Regions from separate parts of the Homo sapiens genome. Here region 1 is linked to region 2. The links come from fine-mapping of genetic effects on gene expression. Tissue or cell type: monocytes after Pam3CSK4. Region 2 holds a variant in brackets; the other region holds the start of a gene. All regions are shown on one strand. Distances are between the middles of the regions.

Region 1 (2,642 bases), 56 kb after region 2:
TATATTACCTTTGTCTTCCACTGTGGCATTATTCCCAGTAAAGACAAACATCTGTGTACCTTCACCTCCTATTGGAAAAATCATTCCTGTCTCTAGCATGACTGATAGATTAATTACCTCAATTCTCTTTTATCTTCCGTATCTTCCTACGAGTCAACTTGGTCTTAAGTTCCCTTTTACTCAAGCTCCTGTCTCCTCTAAACTGCTCTTCTTAAGACTACCATAATCGACGTGTGAATATATTAGTGTAATCGTGTTTGTAACTTGGTAAAAAAACAAAACACTATTTAGCAAACTGAAGTAACAGAATTTTGTTCATTTTTCTACGGGACATTTTAAATGACCTATTTCTTTAAAGTTTTGTCTGTATTACAGGGCCTTAATGTCTAGTTTCACAACTATATTAACCAAGCCTGAAGCAGGCTACAGTTAGGCAATATTTTCCAATATAAAGACCTCTGATTAAATTCTTACTGTGAATCTTCGGAATTTGGCATGAAACAGAACAAGCATGATTGCACCTGTTCTTCCCTATTGTAAACCATCTTCGGTGTCAACATATACAATAAGTTTTGTGGTATTTCCACCTGGTTTTCTATTTTCAAAGTACCCTTGTATGACACAGGTATAAAAATATTTTGATTCTAATCTGCCATTTTCCTTACTCTCACACTTTTTTGGACGGCTTATAATTTTCGATATGGTACAAAGCTCACTAACTGGTTCTTTGCTAGAGGCCTGCTACTGATACTGATGGTCGCTAAATGCTAGGTACGCCGCCAGTATTGCTCTTACTTCAATACCGACATCGCAGGATAAAGGCAGTCACATTTAGGCGCGCAAGCGCAATTCTTGATTAATGAGCCAAGGCAGACTTCTCAATCCGAGTTTTGAGTTTTCCTTACTTTTCCCCCAAATGCTCTTTTCCTCGGATTTCACATCGATAGCACTTATTCGAGTTTTCACGAGTAACCTGACGCAGGCGGAACCGACGAAGACTAGCCGGCAAGAATCCTACAGTCGCAGCCATCTGCGCAGCGTCCGCCGGGGACGCTCCGCGCGGAAGACCGCCTGTGACTCGACACACTCTCCAGTGACGCGGCCGTCGCCGCACCTGCGCGGCGGGGCGGGAAGGAGACTCCCAGCGCCGGGGGGAAGGGAGTCTACGACTCGGGAGGGAGGTGGGGGAGCAGGGAGGGAGAGAGGGAACAAGGGAGAAGGAGAGAGGCGGACAGGCGGAGGGGCGGAGGGGCAGAGGGGCGGAGGGGCGGTCCTTCCGGAGGTTCTTAGGTCCTTCACTTCCTGTTTGCCGGCACTTCAAAATCCGGGTCAAAGGGTGTCGCTTCGGTCTCTTCTCCCCGGCTGATCCCAGCACTCTCCGTGACAGCGCCTCCTGACTCAGCCCAGGACCGGCTTCTTCTCACGACCTGCTGGAGACTGGACGCCCACACCTGACCCGGAACTCGGAGGCGTGCTTCCTCCACCCGCCGGCTAGCAGCCCCGGGCCCTGAGCTCCCGCCGACGCCGCTGGGGGGCCCGACAGGCCCCTCGGCGCTGATGCTGAGTGGGATCGAGGGCCCGGGGCGGCGGCGGAGTACGGGCCTCTGGCGCCTTAGGCCAGCCGCAGGTGTCGGTTCTTAGGCTCTCCAGGCTCGCTAGCTCCCGCCCCGGCTTGGATGGGTCTCCCTGCGCCATAAATGTGGCTGCTGAGGCGGCGGTGGCCGTGGCCCGTCGCGCTGCTGCTGCGGCGCTCCAAGTTCATCTCCGCCCCGGGGCTCTCCTGCCCCACCTCGGGGCTGCCGCCACCCGCTCCTTATCCCCTGGCCCTGGCCTTGCAGCGTGGCGACAATGGACAAGATCCTGGAGGGCCTTGTGAGTTCCTCGCATCCCCTGCCCCTCAAGCGGGTGATTGTGCGGAAGGTGGTGGAATCGGCGGAGCACTGGCTAGACGAGGCGCAGTGCGAGGCCATGTTTGACCTGACGACCCGGCTCATCCTGGAGGGCCAGGACCCTTTCCAGCGGCAGGTGGGGCACCAGGTGCTGGAGGCCTACGCACGATACCACCGGCCAGAGTTCGAGTCCTTCTTCAACAAGACCTTCGTGTTGGGCCTCCTTCATCAGGGCTACCACTCTCTGGACAGGAAGGATGTAGCCATCCTGGACTACATTCACAACGGCCTGAAGCTGATTATGAGCTGTCCGTCGGTGCTGGATCTCTTTAGCCTCCTGCAGGTAGAGGTGTTACGGATGGTGTGTGAGAGGCCGGAGCCGCAGCTCTGTGCCCGACTGAGCGACCTTCTGACCGACTTTGTGCAATGCATCCCCAAGGGGAAATTGTCCATCACGTTCTGTCAACAGCTGGTTCGAACGATAGGCCATTTCCAGTGCGTGTCCACCCAGGAAAGAGAGCTGCGGGAATATGTCTCCCAGGTGACAAAAGTGAGTAACTTGCTGCAGAACATCTGGAAGGCCGAGCCTGCCACACTACTGCCTTCCCTGCAAGAAGTTTTTGCAAGCATCTCTTCCACAGGTAAGGGTCATTATCTTTCAGAATATCTCATAAAAAATCAGTATATGTCTCTCTTGCACACACACATTCACACCATGTTTTCCTCCTGCCCTAAAAACATTCTTAAGCGAGA
Region 2 (2,847 bases):
AGTGGCCTATTTCCCTATTTTCTCATCCACTAAGCAAGAACTGTCAGATTAATCAGATTATCCCAAATTAATTACATTATCTTCTCCAACAAACAGAATAGGGAGAGGGATAAAAGCTTCCCTGCCAACCTGTCCCCCTAGGGAAGGGGTCTGCAAATATAGCCTTTGGGTCAAATCTTCCCAGCCTTCTGTTTTTGTATGGTTGTATGGGAAAATAACCATGTCCATTTGTTTACTTATTGTCTATGGCTGCTTTCATACTATAATGGCAGAGCTGAACATTTGTGACAAAGACCATATGGCCCACAAAATGGAATATATTTACTATGTTGTTCTTTACAGAAAAGGTTTGCCAAACCCTGCTCTAGAAATACTGGCTTGGCAAAACTTTATGACCATATCCACAATAAAAAATAGTCTTCATAATGTGGTCCTCTTTACATAATCATATATATTTTATATAATATAATCTGAAACAAATGTTTCATGAAATAATACCTCTTACTACATGTGATGCACTCTGACACTTTCTCTTCTCTTTTATATCATTTTTAAAGCTGATCACAATTCACTAAATTGACTTCATAACCCACTAATGAATTGCAACCTCCACCTTCTCTGAGGCAAGCATATAGGGAGAATGGTTTTCTCTGAGCTACAGTACATAAGAAATGCTGAAAAGATGATAGCAGCTGTTTGTTTTTTAATTAACTTTCTAGTAAAATATACTACTGCAGTAGGACAGAAAACATATATTTAGATTTTCCTGTGCTCAGTATTCATTTATTCAACAAAATTTCAACAATTATTTACATAATACCTATATTTCAAGTCTTTGCTAGGTTCTGTGGGTATAAAGGTGAAGAAAACAAACATGGAGATTAGACTTTAGTGGGGAAAACAAATTTGAAACAAATACAAAAACATGTAAGTACCAACTGTGATATGAAAAAAAGGTACTGAGTCCCATACATTTATAATGTGAGACGTGGATAGAAACTTACCTAGTTTAGGGCAGGATGAGGCTTTGTCTAGTTGGAATGGCTTCACTGGAGAAGTGAAAGTGGACCTGATAACTTCACAATTGAGAAGTTAACTAGGCAAACAAGGTGGGAAAGAGGAAGAGCAGAACCCAAAGAAAGGACTAGCCAAATCAATTTTAATAATTACACATCGAACATTATACAGCACCTACTATACTTCTCTAAGCACTTTATACATATTAATTCATGATTTGCCAGAAAGAGGCAGATATGAAACAAAAATTCATGCCCCAAAGCACGACTAAACCAAACAGTTGCAAGGCAGCCTTATAGAACAGGAAAAACATGGGCTTTAGTGTCAACTATACTTGTGTTTAAATTTCTACTTATCTGAGTGATCACAAGCAAATTGCCTAACTTTTCTGAGCCCCAGTTGCTTTACTACAAAATTAAATGTCATGAAAAATTAAATCAGTAATATATTGTACTATTGCCTGACATAAGTTAAAAATCAAATATTAGTTTTTTAATTCCAAATCTTCCCCTATAGACTCAAAACTCCTTGAAAGCATGTGGCTAAATCTAAGTTCATTATTAATTCAGAAAAAAAATTGTGGAGGG[A/T]AATTATACATATTGAACTGAAAAGACAAAAAATAATTCCTTCAAAACACTAAGGGAAAATTTTTTTCTACATTAATGCTGAAACCAATCTCTCTATTATATAAGAATGAGAGTAGAAAAGATATTTTATGACATGCAAGGTCTCAACAATTTACCTCCAATTCACCATTTTTTAGGTAGCTACTGGAGAACGTGCTCCACCAAATTAAGGGAATAAACTAAGAAAGAGGAAGACATGAAAAACAGGGCACAGAAGAATCCACACAGGGTAGAGTCACAGAGGATTCCCATATGATGGTGAAGGGAAGTCCCTGCAGGCCTAGAGACGCATCAATCCCAACTGCAGAACGGCACAGGCTCTGAGAGGGATGTCTTCATTAAAACCGACAAACTATCAATGTATTGACTACACTGAGAAGAATTCCAGGATTCTGTAGAAAACTTGGGGGGGATGAATTAGTAAAATGAATATAGAAAACAAAGCAAATTTTAAAATGAAGCAATTTTTAACTCCATGAAAAACAAAAATTGTACACAAAAGGAAATATAAACATGGCTTAGCTATGAACAATATTTACATATTTAAAACTATGTATACAATTACTATTCATTGAACCAAAAATTATGATTCAGGTGTATGGAAAGCATAGCGGGAAAGGCCATGTGTATTTCTATGGAGACAAGAGAGCTGTAGCCTCATCTTCCATATTAGGAAGTCAACAGGAAGTTTAAAATTTAAAAAGCAAGAAAGGGTAGTATATAGAAATATAGTAGAAATAACAGAAGAAACAAGCTAAAAAGAATTGAAAGTGGTTGGGAGAGGGTTGGGGATAGGGAGGATGGAGGACAGAACTGCTGCTTGTGTTTTAAGCCTTACAATAGTACATGTGCATTTGTGTGCAATAAATAAGAACTGAACTTTAAAATGATATTCAAATTGCATGTTCACAGAACCCCTGAAACACCTCTGAAGAGTCCAGGAAAAGTATTTTAAAACAATTTAAAGCTCAGTGGGAATTTCTTAGAATACTGGACACAGTACTGGATCACTCATCATAGATAACAAAGCTTAAGTGATTTTATATGAATGCTTTATTGGGGGCCACTTGAATTACACTTATGTTAACACTATAAGGTATCATTTTCCCATGTTACAGATTAGAAAACAATGTTAAATAACTCACTCAAGAGCACACTGCCAGTACAAAGATATGTGTGTGGTTTATATTCCCACACAGTACCA

Alleles and levels. Alleles are on the strand shown, and positions count from the first base shown. SD is a standard deviation of normalised expression in the study named.
For the expression in monocytes after Pam3CSK4 of the gene that starts at base 1,259 in region 1, allele T in region 2 goes with a higher level than allele A (moderate effect, 0.69 SD a copy in Quach 2016).

What was found. PIP is the estimated chance that this variant, and not a neighbour inherited with it, causes the effect.
Region 1: it holds the start of USP38-DT, and the variant in region 2 is fine-mapped to the expression of USP38-DT in monocytes after Pam3CSK4 (Quach 2016, PIP 0.92).

Annotation. Positions count from the first base shown.
Region 1 is chr4:143,183,603-143,186,244 of GRCh38, forward strand. It overlaps USP38-DT (USP38 divergent transcript), which reads right to left and starts at 1,259. Exons shown (of 4, transcript NR_185979.1): 1 at 906-1,259. USP38 (ubiquitin specific peptidase 38) reads left to right here and starts at 1,315. Exons shown (of 10, transcript NM_032557.6): 1 at 1,315-2,530. The coding sequence starts at 1,849. RefSeq lists enhancers at 365-1,250, 1,251-2,135 and silencers at 1,187-1,236, 1,457-1,706.
Region 2 is chr4:143,127,689-143,130,535 of GRCh38, forward strand. The region is part of intron 1 of USP38-DT (USP38 divergent transcript); the gene reads right to left. Among named protein-coding and RNA genes, the nearest start is that of USP38-DT, 56 kb to the right of the region's middle. The variant A/T (reference allele first, on the strand shown) is at 1,605.